Linked DNA regions of Homo sapiens: region 1 is linked to region 2. Evidence: fine-mapped expression QTL. A gene starts in region 2. The other region holds a variant in brackets. All regions are shown on one strand. Distances are between the middles of the regions. Region 1 overlaps QPCTL (glutaminyl-peptide cyclotransferase like). Region 2 holds the start of FBXO46 (F-box protein 46).

What was found.
Region 1: its variant is fine-mapped to the expression of FBXO46 in whole blood (TOPMed, PIP above 0.99).

What each region holds. Positions count from the first base shown.
Region 1 is chr19:45,698,393-45,709,530 of GRCh38, reverse strand. It overlaps QPCTL (glutaminyl-peptide cyclotransferase like), which reads right to left. Exons shown (of 7, transcript NM_017659.4): 4 at 10,832-10,984; 5 at 10,631-10,730; 6 at 7,617-7,733; 7 at 5,544-6,627. The coding sequence ends at 6,482. Among named protein-coding and RNA genes, the nearest start is that of QPCTL, 11 kb to the right of the region's middle. RefSeq lists an enhancer at 2,372-2,601. The variant C/T (reference allele first, on the strand shown) is at 6,527.
Region 2 is chr19:45,725,282-45,736,419 of GRCh38, reverse strand. FBXO46 (F-box protein 46) reads left to right here and starts at 5,524. Exons shown (of 2, transcript NM_001080469.2): 1 at 5,524-5,571. It overlaps MEIOSIN (meiosis initiator), which reads right to left and starts at 2,981. Exons shown (of 15, transcript NM_001310124.2): 1 at 2,754-2,981; 2 at 973-1,043. The coding sequence starts at 1,043. RefSeq lists enhancers at 5,197-5,326, 5,417-5,526 and a silencer at 6,375-6,669.

The DNA.
Region 1 (11,138 bases), 27 kb after region 2:
CACCACGTTGTCTAGGCTGCTGTCGAACTCGTGGCCTCCAGTAATCCACCCATCTCAGTTTCCCAAAGTGCTGGGATTACAGGGATGAGCCACCACGCCCAGCTGGATATCTTAAATTTTCAGTTTAAAGGAAGGGAAAAATGGATATTGAGAGGCAGCTAAGTCTCTGACATTCTTCTCCGGAAATCAGAATTTCCAGAGGACTAGGATACATTATGGTAGTGATTCAATGCTTAGATTTTAGAATCAATAAGACCTGGGTTTGAATCTTGTGGGGAGGGTGAGTTAGATTATTCGGACCTTCCTGTTGAGAACAACTGAAAAAAAAATGCCCTTCAAAGGATCAAATAGCCAATAAAATACAGTAAAGACCCACCACGCCAAATAGTTAAGAGAATGATATGTGGGAGCCGGGCGCGGTGGCTCACTCCTGTAATCCCAAGCACTTTGGGAGGCCAAGGCGGGCGGTTCGAGATCATCCTGGCTAACACAGTGAAACCCCATCTCTACTAAAAATACAAAAAATCAGCCGGGTGTAGTGGTGGGTACCTGTAGTCCCAGCTACTCGGGAGGCTGAGGCAGGGGAATGGCGTGAACCCGGGGAGCGGAGCTTACAGTGAGCCGAGATTGCGCCACTGCACTCCAGCCTGGGAGACAGAGCAAGAATCCGCCTCAAAAAAAAAAAAAAAAAAAAAAGAATGATATGTGGGGCTCTGAAGCCACATTTGCTCTCAGGGTGTTTGCTGATGTGGACACACTGGGGTTTCCTACTTGGCAGCCTTACTGGAAGGAGCAGGCAAAAGTCAAGTCCAAAGCCAGCCCACAGTGAGCAACTGCAGGAACTGGGATTCCAGAGAGCTACAAGCTCAGGTAAGGATGACCCGGAAGACTGAAGAGGTATTCAAGAGGCAGAAATCAAATGAAAAAAAAAGAAAGATTCTGATAATCTGTGGTCACAGACTGGCCCTCGGCACAGGTTCGCAGCCAGGTTCACGTCCTGTGTGATACAGGGTACTTCTAGCTGACATGTCTGGCAGAAACAAACACAAGTCCACCTGTGGAAGGAACTGTCATCTAGAAGCCCCACAAATATTTTTGTTTGTTTGTTTTGAGATGCAGTTTCGCTCTTGTTGCCCAGGCTGGAGCGCAGTGGCGCGATCTCGGCACACTGCAACCTCTGCTTCCTGGGTTCAAGTGATTCTCCTGCCTCACCTGCCAAGTAGCTGGAACTACAGGTGCGCACCACCACACCTGGCTAATTTTTTGTATTTTTAGTAGAGACAAGGTTTCACCATGTTGGCCAGTCTGGTCTTGAACTCCTGACCCACCTTGGCCTCCCAAAGTGCTGGGATTACAGGTGTGAGCCACCACGCCTGGCTTTTTTTTTTTTTTTTTTTTTTTTTTTGGATATGGAGTCTCACTGTTGCCTAGGCTACGGTGCAGTGGCACAATCTCAGCTCACTGCAACCTCCGCCTCCCCGGTTCAAGCGATTCTACTGCCTAGGCTTCCCAAGTAGCTGGGATTACAGGGACCCACCACCACGCCCAGCAATTTTTTTTTTTTTTTTTTTTTTTTTTTGGTAGAGATGGGGTTTCACCATGTTGGCCAGGCTGGTCTTGAACTCTTGACCTCAAGCAGTCTGCCCGCCTTGGTCTCCCAAAGTGTTGGGATTACAGGTGTGAGCCACCGCACCCAGCCCACCACAAATAATTTTTCAGGTAATGAGTAGTACACAAATAACCAAACAAATGGAAATAATATGAATAAGAACCAGCAGAAACAACAAAAACACCCACATAGGCTTCACATGATGAAACTGTCAATCACAGATTATAATACAAAATTTATTTTAAACTGTTTAAAAATTTTAAAAGCTTGGAATTATCAGCAAGGAAGCCAAAACTAAAAAAAAAAAAAAAAAAAAAAATCAAAATGGCCTAGTAGGTAGGAAAGGGAAAAAAAACCCACTGACATAACTTTTACAAATGAAAAATGCAAGGCTGGGCACAGTGGCTCATGCCTGTAATCTCAGCACTTCGGGAGGCCGAGGCGGTGGATTGTGACATCAGGAATTTGAGACCAGCCTGGCCAATACAGTGAAACCCTGTCTCTACTAAAAATACAAAAATCAGCCGGGCGTGGTGGCGTGTGGCTGTAGTCCCAGCTACTCGGGAGGCTGAGGCAGAAGAATTGCTTGAGCCCGGGAGCCAGAGGTTGCACTGAACTGAGGTCGTGCCACTGCACTCCAGCCTGAGCGACAGAGCGAGACTCTGTCTAGAAAAAAAAAAAAAAAAGATAAAAGGGTTTGCTGGCTGCGGGAACTTGCCAGGCACCAGCAGCCTCATCTGTACAACAGGGCTAACAGTTCTTACCCCAGATTCAAGCCAAAAATCTGCATAAAGCAGATTAAAGTTAAAATTCTATGGATACTTTTTCTTAACAAATTTCATCTGGCACAAGTGTATTTTTTTTTTTGGTAGTGGTGGGGGTGTATTTGGGGTATTTTTATTTTTATTTTTTTGAGACAGGGTCTCATTCTGTCACCCAGGCCGGAGTGCAGTGACACAATCATAGCTGACTGTAACCTCAAACTCCTGGGCTCGGGAGATCCTCCTGCCTCAGCCTCCCAAGTAGCTGGGACCACAGGCACCATACTAGCTAATTTTAATTTTTTTTGTAGAGACAGGGTCTTTGTTGCCCAGGCTGGTCGGGAACTTCTGGGCTCAAACAGTCCTCCTGCCTCAACCTTCCAAAGGACTGGGATTACAGGGGTGAGTGACCGCACCCAGCCACAGGTACTTTTTGGAAGGGAGATAGGACATGGGGGTTGCGAGCACAGCTGTGAGTGAAAATTTGCACACCATACACAACTCGTTTGCAATTCTCAGTCTCAGCCACCTCACCTGCAAAATGAGAACTGAAATTGTACCTATTTCAGGATTTGTAGTCAGGGAGACTACATAGTTTTGTATATGTAAAAAAAAAAAGTTCTCATGGGCTGGGCACGGTGGCTCACGCCTGTAATCTCAGCACTTTGGGAGGCCAAGGCGGGTGGACACCTGAGGTCAGGAGTTCAAGACCAGCCTGGCCAACATGGCAAAACTCATCTCTACTAAATATGCAAAAATTGGCCAGGCATGGTGGCTCGATGCCTGTAATCTCAGCACTGTGGGAGGCCGAGGCAGGTGGATCACCTGAGGTTAGGAGTTCAAGACCAACCTGATCAACATGGTCCCATCTCTACTAAAAAGTACAAAAATTAGCAGGGCATGGTGGCAGGTGCCTGTATTCCCAGCTACTTGGGAGATTGAGGCAGGAGAATCGCTTGAACCCAGGAGGTGGAGTTTGTAGTGAGCTGAGATCTCGCCATTGTACTCCAGCCTGGGCGACAGAGTAAGACTCTCTCCCCCAAACCAAGAAAATACAAAAATTAGCTGGGCATGGTAGCACATGCCTGTAATCAGCTACTCCAGAGGCTGATGAAGAAGAATCGCTTGAACCCAGGAGGTGGAGGTTGCAGTGAGCCGAGATTGTGCCACTGCAACTCCAGCCTGGGTGACAAGAGCGAAACTCCATCTTAAAAAAAAAAAAAAGTTCTCATGATGCCTGGCACATAGTAGATGCTCAATAAATGTCAGCGAATGTGGAAGAACCTAAATTGAGGACCTATGTTTATCCTCTCATTTGATACCCCGAGTTTCAGCCCTGGAGCTGATTTGGAGGGCAGATGCTCACCTACACAGCGTAGGACTGCTTCCAGGTGCCATCTGTCTCAGGTTTTTCTTTTGAGTCGGTTTGCTGAGCAGCTGTGTATGCACCAAAGTGTCTCCTTAAGGACAGCGTGGGCCAGGCACGGTGGCTCACGCCTGTAATCCCAGCATTTTGGGAGGCCGAGACAGGCGGATCACGAGGTCAGGAGATCGAGACCATCTTGGCTAACACGGTGAAACCCTGTCTCTACTAAAAATACAAACATTAGCCAGGCGTGGTGGCACGCACCTGTAGTCCTAGCTATTTGGGAGACTGAGGCGGGAGAATCGCTCGTACCCGGGAGGCGGAGGTTGCAGTGAGCCAGCATTGCAGCACTGCGCTCCAGCCTGGGTGACAGAGCGAGACTCCGCCTCAAAAAGAAAAACCTCCTGGGCTCAAGTGATCCTCCCACTTCAACCTCTCAAAGTGCTGAGATTGCAGCCATGAGCCACTGCACCCAGTCTGCATTTTTTAATGAGCACCCCAGCTGAGTCTGAAAATTAGGTAGGGTTGGGAAATACTTGCTCATTGGAGTTTGCAGTTACACTGCCATCTCACAGTGCTGTACCAACAGCTGAAGGGGAAAGACAGTGTGCCCTAACTACTCTGCGGTAAATCTAGATCTGTCTTACCCATTCCTCTCATAGATGCTCTCAGACTTTCAAAACCCCATGTTTTCCAAAGTACCTTCTGAGGTATCCTAGTTCTTTTTGTTGTTGTTGTATTTTGTTTGTTTGTTGAGACAGCCTCGCTCTATTGCCCAGGCTGGAGTGCAGTGGCGTGATTTTGGCTCACTGTAGCCTCTGCCACCAGGTTCCAACAATTCTCCTGTTTCAGCCTCCCAAGTAGCTGGGATTACAGGCTCATGCCACCACACCTGGCTAATTTTTGTATTTTTAGTAGAGATGGGGTTTCATCATGTTGTCCAGGCTGCTCTCGAACTCCTGAGCTCAGCTGAACTGCTGGCCTCGGCCTCCCAAAGTGCTGGGATTTCAGGTGTGACCCACCATGCCCGGCCGAAGTATCCTAGTTCTATGAAGTGCTTCCCAATAAAAAGTGTTCCATAGTGAAATACTTTGGGAGCCTCTGGGTTCTGTCTTAAAAATTCACATGATGCAGTGAGGAAACTCATTTTATGTTGTCTCACCCTCTTCTTGGATTTCAGATCCCCCTTGTCATGCAATGTCTATTTACACGAGTTCTACAGAATGGCCTTTTTTGTTGTTGTTGGTGGTGGTGGTGTTTGTTTTGAGACAGGGTGTCACTGTGTTGCCCAGGCTGGTCTTGAACTCTTGGGTTCATGGGATTCTCTCACCTCAGCCTCCTGAATAGCTGAGACTACAGGGTGTGCACCACCACACCTGGCTTATGCAGGTGGTGTTTTGCAGAAACATTGGTTACGCTTTTTTTTTTCTTTCTTTTTTCTGGAGAATGGGGTCATGCTCTGTTGCCCAGGCTGGTCTCAAACTCCTGAGCTCAAGCTATCCCTCTGCCTCTGACTCCCAAAGAGCTGGGATTACAGGTGTGAACCACCATGCCCAGCCAGAAACAATGGCTTATTACCCACTGGGTCTGGAAGAATCTGGACTTCCAAAATATGAGCTTCTGTCTCCTCTGTGCCTGGTTATGAGGACATCCTCTGTGTGCCCCGTGTGGGAGTTAGGTTAGGACTGGTGCAGTAGCAAGGCTGCTGTTCTGGAGAATGAACTGACACAACACAAACCACAGAGAATTCATCTAGCTGGGTGGCATCACTGGGCCAGACCAGTAATAGTCTTTTAGTCTTTTACTCTTTTTAAAAAATATTTATTTATTTATTTATTTATTGAGATGGAGTCTCGCTCTGTTGCCCAGGCTGGAGTGCAGTGGTGTGATCTTGGCTCACTGCAACCTCCGCCTCCTGCGTACAAGTGATTCTCCTGCCTCAGCCTCCCAAGCAGCTGAGATTACAGGCGCCCACCACCATGCCCAGCTAATTATTGTATTTTTAGTAGAGACAGGGTTTCGCCATGTTGACCAGGCTGGTCTCAAACTCCTGACCTCGGGTGATCCTTCCCCCTCAGCCTCTCAAAGTGTTGGGATTACAGGTGTGAGCCACCACACCCAGCAGTCTTTTACTTTTTCAGTTCGCTGACTTAAAGAACAGCATTTTGCCAGGTGCGGTGGCTCACACCTGTAATCCCAGCACTTTGGGAGGCCGAGGCTGGCGGATTACAAGGTCAGGAGATCGAGACCATCCTGGCTAACACGGTGAAACCCCGTCTCTACTAAAAATACAAAAAATTAGCCAGCGTGGTGGCGGGCACCTGTAGTCCCAGCTACTTGGGAGGCTGAGGCAGGAGAATGGCGTGAACCCAGGAGGCGGAGTTTGCAGTGAGCCGAGATCGCACCACTGCACTCCAGCCTGGGCAACACAGTGAGACTCCGTCTCAAAAAAAAAAAGAACAGTATTTGGTCCCTGCAAACCTTTGGACCAAGTGTTTACCTCTGGGGAGGGAGCAAGTTCTTATTCCTCTGGCTGTCATCCCACAGTGGTCTCTTCCCTGTCCTTGAAGGGTGGCAGCTTGAGACAATCAAAAGAAAGAAGGTCTTCCAATTGTAGCACAATTAGGAGACAAAGGTATGAAAAGGACAAACCAGCACACCCTAGGCAGATCCTGCCTGAGCTTCACTGGCCCCCGCTGGGACCTTCTCTCTCACAGTCCTCTCCACAGTCATTGGCCAAGCACGCTAGAGCCCCAGGTATTCAGCCAGGAACACAGCGAGAATGCGGCA[C/T]AAGTTGTGTACCGTGGGTGGGTGGAGATTGACCTCGGTGTCCGCAGGGGTGTGCCAGACAGCAGGGAAGGGCGTGGAGATGAGATGGAGCACGGGTACCCCTGAAGTGACAGAGGAGACTTTGTCAGGTCCACTGCAGCCCACCACAACCCAGGAGCCCAAGCCCAACCTCTAGGTAACCTTGCCTTGCCACCACACACTGGTGAAAGATACTATGTTCTGGCACTTTTTTTTTTTTTTTGAGACAGAGTCTCACTCTGTCGCCCAGGCTGGAGTGCAGTGGCGTGATCTCGGCTCACTGCAGCCTCTGCCTCCCAGGTTCCAGCGATTCTACCGTCTTAGCCTCCCGGGTAGCTGGGATTATAGGCAGGCACCACGACACCTGTCTAATTTTTGTATTTTTAGTAGAGATGGGGTTTCATCATGTTGGCCAGGCTGGTCTCAAACTACTGACCTCAGGTGATCTGCCCGCCTCAGGCTCCCAACGTGCTAGGATTACAGGTGTGAGCCACCATGCCCAGCCTGGCACTTTTTTTTTTTTTGAGATATCATCACCCTCTGTTGTCCAGGCTAGAGTGCAGTGGCTCAATCAAGGCTTACTGCAGCCTTGACTTCCCAGGCCCAAGTGCTCCTCCCACTTCAGCCTCTCGAGTAGCTGGGACTATAGGTGTGAACCACCATGCCCGGCTAATTTTTTTGTATTTTTAGTAAAGACAAGATTTATGCCATGTTGCCCAGGCTGGTTTCAAACTCCTGGGCTCAAGGATCCCCCCCCGCCACCCCGCTCAGCCTCCCAAAGTGCTGGGATTACAGCTGTGAACCACCGTGCCCAGCTGCAAACATTTCTGGAATGCTTGCTATGTGCTGGGTGCTGGTCCAAGTAAGGTCTTTACCGGTGTTAGCATGTTCAATCCCCTCAACAATACTCTAAGATAGGGAGTATTATCCCCATTTTACAGATGAATAAATCAAAGCACAAAGAGGTTAAGGCCACTTAGCACCATTCCCCAGCCCTGGGAAGGGGACTTGGCCAGTTCCAATTTGTGGCTTCCTTGGACACCCACCCTCCATCCCTCCCTGCAGCTGGTACCTCTGCGGAGGAAGGGGATGTGGTCGTCTTCCACAGAGCCAAAGGGCTCCCCGGGTTGGAAGTACATCACTTCCTGGGGATGAGACTGCAGCAGGTTCAAACGGTGCAGACGCTTCTCTGGAAGTGGGGGCGATTAGAGAGGAAGGGTTAGTCCTTAGTAGTCGAAGGTCCCCAGTCCACAAATCAGAGGAAGGCAGAGCACCCAGAGACAAAGCCCTGGTCAGCCCAACAAGAGTGAATGCCAGTTACTCCTTCCTGTGGGCTCACTATGTTCCTGGTCTCATTCAATCCCTCAGAGTCTAAGACATAGACATTCTTTTTTTTGAGACAAGATCTTGTGGCCTGGTGTGGTGGCTCATGCCTGTAATCCCAGCACTTAGGGAGACCAAGGCAGGTGGATCACCTGAGGTCAGGAGTTCGAAACCAGCTTGGCCAACATGGTGAAACCCTGTCTCTACTAAAAATACAAAAATTAGCTGGGTGTGGTGGTGGGCGCCTGTAATCCCAGCTACTTGGGAGGCTGAGGCAGGAGAATTGCTTGAACCTGGGAGGTGGAGGTTGCAGTGAGCTGAGATTGCACCACTGCACTCCAGCCTGGGTGACAGAGTAAGATTCTGTCTCCAAAAAAAAAAAAAAAGATCTTGCTCTCTCACCCACACTGGAGTGCAGTGGGACAATCCCAGCTCAGTGCAGCCTTAATCTCGCTGGCCTAAGTGATCCTTCAGTCTCAGCCTCCCAAATAGCTAGGACTTCAGGCGCATGCCCCCATGCCTGGGTAATTGTGTGTGTGTGTGTGTGTGCGCGTGTGTGTAGAAATGGGATCTTCCTGTGTTGCCCGGGCTGGCCTCAAACTTCTGGGTTCATGTGATCTTCCTGCCTTGGTCACTCAAATTTCTGGGACTACAGGCATGAGCCACTATGTCTGGGCCCTCCGGCCTTTTTTTTTTTTTTTTTTTTGAGACAGAGTCTTGCTCTGTCGCCAGGCTGGAGTGCAGTAGCACAATCTCGGCTCACTGCAACCTCCGCCTCCCGGGTTCAAGCAATTCTCCTGCCTCAGCCTCCTGAGTAGCTGGGAGTACAGGCGCCCACCACCACACCCAGCTAATTTGTGTATTATTAGTAGAGATGGGGTTTCACCATATTGGCCAAGCTGGTCTCGAACTGCTGACCTTGTGATTCGCCCACCTCGGCCTCCCAAAGTGCTGGGATTACAGGCATGAGCCACCAGGCCCGGCCCCCACTGGCCGTTTTACAGATAGGAAACTGAGGCTCAAAGAAATGAAGCCACTTGTCCAAGTTCATCCAGCTGGTAAGATTGGAAACCACGGCTGTCTCACCTTAGAGCCCCTGTCTGGTAATCACTATTACTAATCTCTAGTTCCTTAGAAAGGCTAGGGAGGTAGAGGAAAGGCTGGGTGAGCCTTTATTTTATTTTCTTATTTATTTATTTGTTTATTTATTTATTTATTTAGTGACAGAGTCTCGCTCTGTCACCCAGGCTGGAGTGCAGTGGCACAATTTCAGCTCACTGCAACCTGTGCTCCCAGGTACAAGCGATTCTTCTGCCTGAGCCTCCGGAGTAGCTAGGACTACAGGCACACGCTACCACACCCAGCTAATTTTTGTATTTTTAGTAGAGATAGGGTTTTACCATATTCGCCAGGCTGGTCTCAAACTCCTGACCTTGTGATCCACCTACCTTAGTCTCCCAAAGTATTGGGATTACAGGCGTGAACCATTGCGCCCAGCCAAGCCTTTATTTTTAAAAACAATTTTTAATTTTTTTAATTTTAATTTTTATTATTACTTTTTTTTGAGACAGAGTCTCACTCTGTCCCCAGGCTGGAGTGCAGTGGTGTGATCACAGCTTACTGCAGCCTCGACCTCCCAGACTCAAGTGATCCTACCACTTCAGCCTCCCAAGTCACTGGGACTGCAGGCAGGTGCCACCATGCCTGGCTAATTTTTTTTTTTTTTTTTTTTGAGATGGAGTCTCGCTCTGTTGCCCAGGCTGGAGTGCAGTGGCGTGATCTCGGCTCACTGCAACCTCCGCCTCCCAGGTTCAAGCCATTCTCCTGCTTCAGCCTCCCGAATAGCTAGGATTACAGGCACATGTCACCACGCCCAGCTAACTTTTTGTATTTTTAGTAGAGATGGGGTTTCGCCCTGTTGGCCAGGCTGGTCTCAAACTCCTAACCTCAGGTGATCCACCCGCTTTGGCCTCCCAAAGTGCTGGGATTACAGGTGTGAGCCATCGCGCCTGGCCTAATGTTTGTTTTTATTTTGTAGAGACAGGGTTTCGCCATATTGCCCAAGCTGGTCTGAAACTCCTGAGCTCAAGTGATCCACCTGCCTCTCAAAGTGCTGGGATTACAGGTGTGAGCCACCAAGCCCAGCCTTTATTTTATTTTTATTTTTTATTTTTTTGAGACAGGATCTCATTCTGTTGCCCAGGCTGGAGTGCAGTGGCGCAATCTTGGCTCACTATAGCCTTGACCTCCCAGGCTCTAAGGATACTCCCCAGTAGCTGGGATGACAGGTGCATGCCACTGCACCCAGCTAATTTTTTTTTAAGAGATGGGGTCACCAGGCACGGTGGCTCACGCCTGTAATCCCAGCACTTTGGGAGGCTGAGGTGGACGGATCACGAGGTCAGGAGTTCAAGACCAGCTTGGCCAACATAGTGAAACTCTGTCTCTACTAAAATACAAAAATTAGCTGGGCATGGTGGCATGCGCCTGTAGTCCCAGCTACTCGGGAGGCTGAGGCAGGAGAATGGCTTGAACCTGGGAGGTGGAGGTTGCAGTGAGCCAAGATCATGCCACTGCACTCCAGTCTCAGTGACAGAGCGAGACTCCATCTCAAAAAAAAAAAAAAAAAAAAGATGGGGTCTCCCTATGTGGCCCAGACTGGTGGATGAGCCTTTAGAGTGTAGGTGCCTGTCCTACCCCAGCCCACCGCCCTGTACCCCATACCCCAGGTGGGCTGGGGCCCACCTCCGCATTCACCCTTACCAATGCTCCTCAGCCGATGGAACCAGCGGACCGTGCGAGGGAAGTGGCTGTAGAAGGTGGGATTGGGGGCTCCCAGGAGATCAAGAAGCATAAAGAGCTCCTAAGGAGAAAGGCTAGGACTGGAGGGGCCCGTGCAGGATGACGCCAGCCCTGCTTAACCTGCTCCCTCCCTCGCCAGAAGCCAGGGGACCCTGGTCTTACAATAGCCTGGATCCTGGTGGGGCCGGGGCTGTGAGGTATAGACTCCATGAGCTGGGCCAGGTGCCGGGAACCGTAAAGGGAGTCCTTGGGTCCCCACTCCTTCAGCGCCTCTTCACCATCCAAGAAGAGCAGTTGCAGGGTCACCGGGGCTGCCTGTGGGAGCAGCAGGGGGGTGGCCAGAGCCAGCTCAGGACTAGCCCTCAGCCTCAACATACCCACACTTCTTGCCCGCTTGCATGCTTAAGAGAACACATAAGGTGTCCTCACTCATAGAACGTGGTAGCCAAGAGCACAGATTCCGAGTCAG
Region 2 (11,138 bases):
CTGCACTCTACAGCCTGGGCATCAGAGTTAGACTCTGTCTTAAAAAAAAAGGAAAGAAAGAAAGACACTCAGAATGTCAGTTGGGCGTGGTGGCTTAGTAATTCCAGCACTTTGGGAAGATAAGACAGGAGGATCACTTGAGGCCAGAAGTTCAAGACAGGCCTGTGCAACATAGCAAGACCCTGTCACTACAACAAATAGAAAAACTGGCTGGGTGTGGTGGCATGTGCCTGTAATCTTAGCTGTTCGGAAGGCTGAAGCAGGAGGATCAAGCCCAGGCTCAAACCCAGGAGTCCGAGGCTATAGTGAGCTATGATGCCACCACTGCACTCTAACGTGGGCAACAGAGTGATACCCTAACTCTGAAAACAAACAAACTCAGAATGTCACAGGCTGCAAGGACCTTAGAAGTTATCTTTGCCCTAAAAATAAAAAAAGAAATGGGCTGGGCATGGTGGCTTACACCTGTAATCCCAGCACTTTGGGAGGCTGAGACAGGCAGATCACTTGAAGCCAGGAGTTGAAGACTAGCCTGGGGAAAATGGCAAAACCCTATCTTTACAAAAAATACAAAAATTAGCCAGGCATGGAGGCATGAGCCTGTAGTCCCAGCTACTGGGGAGGCTGAGGCAGGAGAATCACTTGAGTTCAGGAGGCGGAGGTTGCAGTGAGCTGGGATCGCAACACTGCACTCCAGCCTGGGCAACAGGAGTGAAACCCTGTCTCAAAAATAAATAAATAAATAAATAAGCAATGATCTTTGCCGATCACCTCAGAGTACTCTCATCTGGAAAATGGTAGGCATCTTTGTACACAACTTCCTCATGAGATTGTTGTATGGATTAACAGTTATCATACAAACAAAATGTTTGGCAAAGAGTCTAGCAAACGGTAAATGCTCAGCAAATGTTTTTGTTATTATTATTCAATGAGAGTGGCTGGGGCTATAAGGGAGATGGGGCAAGCCCTTACCTGTCACTGGGACCCAGTGAATTAGCTCTGGGCTGTTCAGAGGAACCCAAGTATCTGCTGGAACCAAACATCTGCAAAGAGGGAAAAAGAATGATTAGTGACCTCTGGGATTGCAGGAAGGATGGGCAGGAACCCTGATGGGCACCCTTCATCTTCCCTATGATGCTCCTTTGAGCACCCAGAGATCCCAAAATAAGAGTCCCTAGCCCCAACAAATTATGGGCCCAAAGACCCAAATTAAACAGCTAAACCTTGGCCAGAAGTGGTAGCTCACACCTGTAATCCCAGCATTCTGGGAGGCCGAGGCAGGCAAATCACTCGAGGTCAGGAGTTTGAGACCAGCCTGGCCAACATGGTGAAACCCCATCTCTACTAAAAATACAAAAATTAGCCGGGCGTGGTGGTGCACGACTGTAATCCCAGCTACTTGGGAGGCTGAGGCAGGAGAATCACTTGAACCTGGGAGGCGGAGGTTGCACTGAGCCAGGATTAAGCCACTGCACTCCAGCCTGGACAACAGAGTGAGACTGTGTCTCAAAAAACAAAAACAAAAACAAACCCCTAAACCTCTAAAAAGGCACTAAAACTAATACTTTAGAGTCCCAAAATGAGGACCTAAATCCTCACTTTGGAGCCCTCCCAAAGCCAGGTACAGTGGCTCACGCCTGTAATCCTAGCACTTTGGGAGGCCAAGGCAGGAGGATTGCTTGATCTCAGGAGTTTGAGACCAGCCTGGCAATATGACAAAACTCCACCTCTACAAAAAAAAAAAAAAAATTACCTGGGCATAGTGGCACATGCTTGTAGTCCCAGCTACTTGGGAGCCTGAGGTGGGGGGATGGTTTGAGCCCAGGAGGTCAAGGCTGCAGTGAGCTAAAATCGCACTACTGCACTCCAGCCTGGATGACAAAGTGAGACCTTGTCTCAAAAACAAAAAAAAAGGAGCCCTCCCAAACCTACAAACCCTAAATTCTAATACTGAGATACCCCAGACCCTCAAACTGTCAACTTCTGATCTTCAAATATGATCCTAATACTAAGATTACAGACTGCAAGCTGTAACACTATGAACCTATATCCTAAGATAAGAAATCCAGGCCCCTATGAAACAAATCTCACTTCTCCAGATTGACCTCTTAGACGTCCAAACTGTCCCTCAAATTGTGGCCCCAACCCTAAAACTGAGATCTCGAATGTGGGTCCTACTCTGAAACCCCAGACCCTAAAACTGGAGCTCCCATACTCAATGTGGGCACTCCAGGCCCTAAAACGTGCTTCTAAAGACTCAAACTGCGACTCCAGATCCTAAAGCTTCATACTCTACATTGGGATTTAGGCCCTAAATCTATACTGAGGCTTCAGTTGCCCCAAATCAGGCTCCAGACTCTCAAAATGTTACATCATAACTCAGAACTAAGACTTCCAGATCCCCAAATTGGGATCTCTGGATTCCAAGGAGAAAGCTTCCAGTCACAAAACTCAAGCTCTTCAGATTCCAGAACTAGTCACCCCTAGACACAAATCCCGAGATCCCAGATCAGAACTCGAGAGCCCGGATTCCCAACACAAACAGAGTCTTCCGTTCCTCAAACTCGAACCTGGACCCCCGGCTTCAAACCCAAACTCCGTCGCCCGTGGCCCTGCACCCAGAGCATGTTCTATTCCCCTGAGCCCCCCACCGAGGGAAGCTCCTGTGGGGATCCCGGGTTCCCCTAAGCCCAGCTAGTGCTGGGGGAGGCCCCCTGCCCCGCGCCCCATTCCCCTTGGCCTCCAGCACCCGCCTCAGGGCGTGCAAAATGGCGTGAGGCTGCCCCCGCCGTTCTGGTTTCTCCGGGCCCCACTCTAGGGAGCCCGATCAGACAGCGTCTCGCGCGGGTCCCGGGAAGCCGGCCGTGCGCGCGGGGATCCCAGACGGTCTCGGACACCACGTTCCCAACCGGGCTTGGGGTTGGGTGCGAATCCTCCCGGCGCGAGGATCCTGCGCGAGGCGTGAGGAGCAGAGCAAGAGTGCGTTCCTGAGGCCAGGCCACGCCCCTACCAGTTCCAGCCAAGATGTGCTGGGCACGAGACGACGGGGTTGAAAGGGCAGGGTGCAAGTGGCCGTGCGCACGCGCGCCTCGGGAAGGGCCCTGTCGTCTTGCACAGCGTGAGCTCGGCCTCGAGCCTTCTGACAAGGCCTTGGTCGGCGTGAGCCGCTAGGTGACCAATCAGCGCCCGCTCAGCCACCCGCCTTTTTAAGCGGTCACGCCCCTGCACGACCCGCGTGGTCCAGGGCCGTTGCATCCCAAGTAGGCTGGGTTTCCTCAACTGCCAACTCTCAGGAAGAGAGAGAGAGCGAGCTCGCCTGTGTCCCTTCTGGCCCTATGATGTCCCATTTCCACCTTTTCCCTTCAGTTCGTGATTCATGAGGGCCTCCTGTGTGCCAAGCACCAGGCTAGATGGTGGGAACTTAGCCACTGTCTTCCCAGTACAATCGAGAAGACCGTGAGAACCTCCGAGACCATGAGAATCCGGTGAGACGGGAACTCGGTTAATGCAGAGAACAATACGTTGGGAAAGGATTCAAAGAGGAGGGCCATTTGAATTGGGCCTTCTTGGGAGGACGAGGCGGGCGGATCACTTGAGGTCAGGAGTTCCAGACCAGCCTGGCCAACAATGGTGAAACCCCGTCTCGGCTAAAAATACAAAAATTAGCCGGGCATGGTGGGGCGCGCCTGTAGTCCCAACTACTCCAGAGGCTGAGGCAGGAGAATCATTTGAACCTGGGAGGTGGAGGTTGAATGAGCTGGTATCGCCACTGCACTCCAGCCTGGGCGACAGAGCAAGACTCTGTCTCAAAAAAAAAAAAAAAAAAAAAAAGGAAAAAAAAGAAAGAAAAAGAATAAAAGATTTGGGCTTTTTTTTTTTTTTTTTTTGGTAGAGACGAGGGTCTCACTTTGCTGCCTAGTTTGGTCTTAAACTCCTGGACTAAAGCCAGTCTCCCGGCTGAGATTATAAGCATGAGCCACCGCACCCAGCCTGGAAAATACGTCTTAAGGGGAGATGATCTAACGACCTAGTCAAGAGTAGAAACCCTGAAATCCAATACATTTCAGTTCAAATCGTTTTCTTGGCTGTGTTGCCAGCGACAAGAGGCTTAATCTCTTTCTGCCTTATAAATTTGGGATTGTAATTCCTACCAGGGTTGTCTGTAGGGTGTCTGGCATATAGTTCCGATGCAATAAATATTTACTGAACACATGTTTACGCTGTTCTAGGTGCTTGAACAAGGTACACAAAGATCTCTGCCCTCCTGGAGCTTCTTCTTCTTCTTCTTCTTTTTTTTTTTTTTGAGACGGAATCTCGCTCTGTCCCCCAGGCTGGAGTGCAGTGGCGCGATCTCGGCTCACTGCAAGCTCCGCCTCCTGGGTTCACGCCATTCTCTTGCCTTAGCCTCCCGAGTAGCTGGGACTACAGGCACCCGCCACCCAGCCCGGCTAATTTTTTGTATTTTTAGTAGAGATGGGGTTTCAGTGTGTTAGCCAGGATGGTCTTGATCTCCTGACCTTGTGATCAGCCCGCCTCGGCCTCCCAAAGTGCTGTGACTACAGGCGTGAGCCACCGCGCCCGGCCTTCTTTTATTTTAAGAGGCAGCAGGGTCTCATTCTGTCGCCCAGGCTGAACTGCATGGAGGGCGGTGGTGTAACACTAGCTCACTGCCTCGAACTCCTGGGCTCGAGCGATGTGGAGCTGCTATTCTATGATGTGGACTAACTCCTAATGTATGGGACTTTCCTTCCTCCTAAGGCTTAATTTTCTCATTTGTAAATCAGGAGGTAAGAAAGGAGGGGACGGGCCGGGCGCGGTGGCTCACGCCTGTAATCCCAGCACTTTGGGAGGCCGAGGCGGGTGGATCATGAGGTCAGGAGTTCAAGACCAGCCTGACCAACATGGTGAAACTCCGTTTTTACTAAAAATACAAAAACTAGCCGGGCGTGGTGGCGGGCTCCTGTAATCCCAGCTACTCAGGAGGCTCAGGCAGGAGAATCGCTTGAACCCAGGAGGCGGAGGTTGCAGTGAGCCGAAATTGCGCCACTGCACTCCAGCCTGGGTGACAGAGCAAGACTCCGTCTCAAAAAAAAAAAAAAAAAGAAGGGGATGGATGGGAAGGAGTTTGGAAAAGCACAAGGAGCTGTTAGCTATTGTGTTGATCGGCACAAATGAATCAATAAATTTGCTCTTCCCCAACTCTCCACCCCTCACCAACACCCTATTGCAATATTCTCAATTCCCTTCCCAAGGGCCTCGGGCAAAAATGGAGCCCTCCTGGCTAGACTCCATCTCCCAGCGCGCCCAGCGGGGAAGCACCCTGCGCTTGCGCTGCCAAGTCCTCCCCGGCTTTGTCTCCCGGGAGTTCGAGTCGTTCTTTTCCTCCGCCCGCCTAATTTGCTTCCTACCCCACCTCCAAGCTTGACCGTGCTGCCTTCTGGGGGATGTAGTCCGTGGCTGCCCGGACTTCAATTCCCAGCGGGCTTCGGGACGAGAACCCGGAAGGGGAGGCTGGAGAGGAGCGAGTGGGGGAAACCCGCGTAGCCGAGGGAGATGCAGCGCGCGGCGATGGTGAGAGCCCAGGCGCGGGCCGGGGGCGCTGGAGAGTCGGGACGGGGGTTCGGGACCGGGTGACGAGGGGGAAGAGGCAGGGGCGAAAGAAGGGGCTGGGTGAGGGGAGATTGCCTGGGGGAGAGGACTGGGAGGAATGGGAGCCGGAGGTAGTAGTAGAAGAATGGTGGCTTGGGGAGGGGTCTTGGAGGTGGGGTGGGAGTGGAGCTTTGGAATTGATTGTAAAGGGGCTCAGAGCTGGGGAAGTGGGCCCCGAGTTGGAGACTGGGCTGGACATCCAGGTAGAGGCCCTGAAGGGGTCGATTTCGATGGGGGCTTAACCTGCGGCGAGGGTATGAGGATCAGGGTTAGGATGAGTGAGGGGGTCTGGAAGCTCCAAGGGACAGGCGAACGGTGGACGCAATGGGTTGGGGCCTCTGGATCGGATTGGGGGCAGGAAGGCAAGTTGAGGAGGTAGGAGGGAGAAATCAGTGGTAGGATAGAGTGTGGGTTTAGGCTCCAGGACTGAGGGTGGGGTAAGGAGCGTGAAATTAGGGGCCTGGATGTAGTGATAATTTCCCTAGTCCCGCCAGAGACTCCCGGTAAGCTGGACAGGCACAGAACTGTAGGATAATACGGCCAGAAAGGGCCATCGAGACAGGCTTTCGCACCCTCACTTCCCCGGTGGAATTTAGAAGAGTGTAATGGTTTATCCCTATGAGAAGTACAGCATTCATATCCCCTATTCTTCCACCCCTTTGTGCCATGGACAAATCTGTGAGCCTCAGTGCCCTTATCTGTAGTATGGGAACAGCAAGCATGCCTCTGAGAACAGGGTTAAAGGGAGTCATTAAAATCGTTACTATTAGTGGGAGAGCTGGGCTGTGAAGTTTCAGTCTCAGAGCTGTTGGTGGGAAGTTCTCCGCCCCCGGAATGTGACTGGGTTACAGGTGCTAATGGATTTCCTCCTTTCCAGTCCAGTCCCAGAGGCGTTTTCTCAAAAGCTGGCACTGATCTGGGCACACACCCCAGCTCAGAAGCATGTAGGGGCTCCCCACTGTGGATTACAGCTAACGCTTATTGTTTTACAAAATGCCTGGCCCTGTCCTTAGCTGTTTGTACACATTAACTCATTTAATTCTGATAACACCCCTGAGGGGTAGGTGCTGTTATTTTCTCCATTTTACAGAAAGGAAGCAGAAGTACAGAGAAATTAAGCAACTTTCCCAAGGCTATCCAGCATTAATTGCTAGACTCAGGATTCCGATCTTGGCAGCCTGGCTCAGAATCTGTGCTTTCAGCACTATAATTTAGTCCTCTCTCCATACTGAAATATACAATGTGATGAGTAGAGACAGCGAACAAAGCAGTCTAGAATATTAGTTCTGCCATTTACTTGCTATATGACCTTAGGCAAGTCTTTTATTTATTTTTATTTATTTATTTAGAGACAGTCTCCCTCTGTCACCCAGGCTGGAGTGCAGTGGTATGGCTAACTGTAGCCTCTGCCTCCCGGGTTCAAGCGATTCTCCTGCCTCAGCCTCCTGAGTAGTTGGGATTACAAGCATGTGCCACCACGCCCTGGCTAATTTTTGTAGTTTTAGTAGAGACAGGGTTTCTGCATGTTGGTCAGGCTGGTCTTGAACTCCTGGCCTCAGGTGATCCACCCGCCTCGGCCTCCCAAAGTGCTGGGATTAACAGGCGTGAGCCATTGCGCCTGGCCCTATATTTATTTTTATGGTTTTTTGTTTAGTTTTGTTTTGTTTTTGAGGCGGAGTTTCGCTCTTGTTGCCCAGGCGGAGTGCAATCTTGGCTCACCGCAACCTCCGCCTCCCGGGTTCAAGCAATTCTCCGCCTCAGCCTCCCGAGTAGCTGAGATTGCAGGCATGCGCCACCACGTCTGGTTAATTTTGTATTTTTAGTAGAGACAGGTCTTGAACTCCCGACCTCAGGTGATCTGCCCGCCCCAGCGTCCCAAAGTGCTGGGATGACAGGCGTGAGCCACTGCGCGCAGCCTTTTTATTTTTTTAAAGACAGGGTCTCGCTCTGTTGCCCAGACAGGCTGGAATGCAGTGGCGCAATCATGACTCACTGCAGCCTCAACCTCCTGGGCTCAGGCGATCCTCCCACCTCAGCCTCCCAAGTAGCTGGGACTAATTTTTTATTACACACGGCTAATTTTTTATTTTTATTTTTGTAGAGACGCGGGTCTTACTTTGTTGCCCAGGCTGGTCTCAAATTCCTAGGCTTAAGGGGTCTTCCTGCTTCAACCTCCAAAAGTGTTGGGATTGCAGGCGTGAGCCACCACGCCTGGCCCTGGGCAAGGGTTCTTCTTTTGGGTTCTTCTCACCTATAAAATGGGATCAGTAACCCTAGGAAGGTGAGAAGTTTCGGGAAGATAATGCAGTATAGTGGAACTTACTTTATGAGCCCTTACTCCAATACTTATGGAAGGGCTCAGTACGTGTGAGTTGTTGTTTTTGAATGTCAGTGGGAAAGAGAAGGCAGTAGAGAGGAACCAAGAGGGAAGATGTCAGGCTGTCTCCTTTCTCTCTCATGTTGTCACCATGTCCCTGCCCTCCACCTCTGGGCTCCTAAATCCAATTACGACTTCTGGAGAGTGTGCTTACAAACTCAATCTGTGGGCTGGGCATGGTGGCTCATGCCTGTAATCCCAACACTTTGGGAGGCCATTGCGGGCAGATTGCCCGAGGCCAAGAGTTTGATCAAGACCAGCCTGGCCAACATGGCAAAACCCCATCTCTATTAGCTGGGCGTGGTGGCGGGCGCCTGTAGTCCCAGCTACTCAGGAGCCTGAGGCAGGAGAATCTCTTGAACCCAGGAGGTGGAGGTTGCAGTGAGCCAAGATTGTGCCACTGCACTCCAGCCTGGGCGACAGAGTGAGACTGTCTCAAAAAAAAAGAACAAGGAAACTCAGTGTGTCCCCATTCCCATTCCTGTCCCCGCCAAATACCCAGTCTGGCCTTACTCCAGGTGTTTCAGTGAAGAGAAAATATTTCTAACTAGGTTTTTCTTGTTGTTGTTGTTGTTAGTTTGCTTTTGTTCGTTTAACTTTTGGGTCATTAAGGCCTCATTGGGCAGTTTGACAACTTTGTAAATTCACCTTGAAACAGTTTGGTTTATTGTGAGCTTTCTGGGCTTAATTCATTGGCTGTGATAGTAAGCTTATGGTTGAAAACACTGGCTTCAGAGAGGCGCAGGGTCAAAACCCTGCTTCTGTTGCTGTGTGACCTTGGCCAAGCTGCATTCCCACTCTGGGCCTCAGTTTTCTTTTCCCTTTTTTTTTTTTTTTGAGACAGAGTCTCACTGTTGTCCAGGCTGGAGGCCAGTGGTGTGATCTTGGCTCACTGCAATCTCCGCCTCCCGGGTTCAAATGATGTCTTCTGCCTCAGCCTCCTGCGTAGCTGAGATTACAGGCTTGTGTCACCACGCCCAGCTAATTTTTGTATTTTTAGTAGAGATGAGGTTTCACCATCTTGGCCAGGCTGGTCTCGAACTCCTGACCTCAGGTGATGCACCCTCCTTGACTTCCCTAAGTGTTGGGATTACAGGCGTGAGCCACTGCTCCGACCTCTTTTTTTTTTTCTTTTTTTTTGTTTTGAACCAGGGTCTCACTTTGTTGCCCTGGCTGGCATGCAGGGGCATCATCTTGGCTCACTGCAACTTCCACCTCCCAGGATCAAGGGATCCTCCCACCTCAGCCTCCTGAGTAGCTGGGACTACAAGCGTGTGTCACCACACCTGCCTAATTTTTGTAGAGTCAGCGTTTCACCACGTTGCCCAGGCTGATCTTGAACTCCTGACCTCAAGTGATCCACCCGCCTAGGCCTCCCAAAGTGCTGGGGTTACAGGCATGAGCCCCAGTGCCCAGCCAGCCTCAGTATTCTCATGTAAAAATGGGACCACATTTAAACTCTGAGCTTCTCGTAAGGAGTTGACGTGGTAACTGATGAGGTGGCATATATAAAATGCCTGGGGTGTATTATGCTCTCAATAAGTGTGAGGTCTTTCTATGATTTTTATTCTTTCAAGAAAAGGTACTGAGGCTGGGCAAGGTGGCTCATGCTTATAATCTTGGCACTTTGGGAGGCCAAGGTGGGAGGCTGGGATTAACAGGGTGGCAGGATCAGTGGAACTCAGGAGTTTGAAATCAGCTTGGGCAACACAGGGAAAATTCATCTCTACAAACAATTTTTTTTTTTTTAGACAGTCTCGTTTTGTTGCCCAGGCTGGAGTGCAGTGGCATGATCTTGGCTCACTGCAACGTCCGCCTCTTGGGTTCAAGCAATTCTCCTGCCTCAGCCTCCCAAGTAGCTGGGATTACAGGTGTACACCTCTATGCCCTGCTAATTTTTATATTTTTAGTAGAGACGAGATTTCGTTGTGTTGGCCAGGATGGTGCCAAACTCCTGGCCTCAAGTGATCCACCCGCCTCAACCTTCCAAAGTGCTAGAATTACAGGTGTGAGCCACCGTGCCCAGCCATTTTTTTTGTTGTTGTTGTTAGATGGAGTCTTGCTCTGTCTCCTAGGCTGGAGTGCGGTGGTGCGATCTCAGCTCACTGCAGCCTCAACTTCCCGGGCTCAAGTGATCCTCTCACCTCAGCCTCCTGAGTATAGCTGGGACTACAGTTGCATGCCACTACACACAGCTAATTTTTGTATCTTTTTTGTAGAGACGGGTTCTCACTATGTTGCCCAGGCTGGTCTTGAACTCCTATGCTCAAATGATCCGCCCGTCTTGGCCTTCCAAAGTGTTGAAATTACAGGCATGAGCCACTGCACCCAGCCTCAAATAAATTTTTTAAAAAATTAGTCAGGCTTGGTGGCATGAGCCTATAGTCCCAGCACCTCTGGAGGTTGAGGCGGGAGGATCACTTGGGCCCAGGAGGTGGAAGGTGCAGTGAGCTCTGATTGCCCCATTGCACTATAGCCTGGGTGATAGAGCGAGACCATCTCAAACAAACAAACAAAAAAATCAAAGCAACAACAAAACAAAAAGAAAACAGGGAGAAAAATGCACTCTGGAGTCAGAGTGCCCAACTTTGAATCTGGAAAATGGGGTTCATTCCTTAAGTAGTCCATGTGTTTATTTATTCATTTTTATTTAAGTTTTTGAGACAAAGTCTGGCTCTATTGCCCAGGTTGGAGTGCAGTGGTACAGTCTCGGCTCCCTGCAACCTCTACCTCCCGGGCTCAAGCCATCCTCCCACCTCAGCCTTCCAAGTAGCTGGGACTGCAGGCGCACACCACCATGCCCGGCTAATTTTTAAAAAAATTTTTGTAGAGACAGGGTTTTGCCATGTTGCCTAGGCTAGTCCTGAACAATGAGACTCAAGCTGTCGACCTGCCCAAACTGCTGGGATTACAGGTGTGAGCCACCGCACCTGGCCCACAAGTGTTTTAGTTATTTATTTATTTGTTCATTTATTTTTTGAGACAGGGTCTGGCTCTGTTGCCCGGGCTGGAATGCAGTGGCACTATCTTGGCTCACTGTGACTTCCACCTCCTGATCTTACGCCATCCTCTCACCTCAGCCTCCAAAATAGCTGGGACTACAGGGGCATGC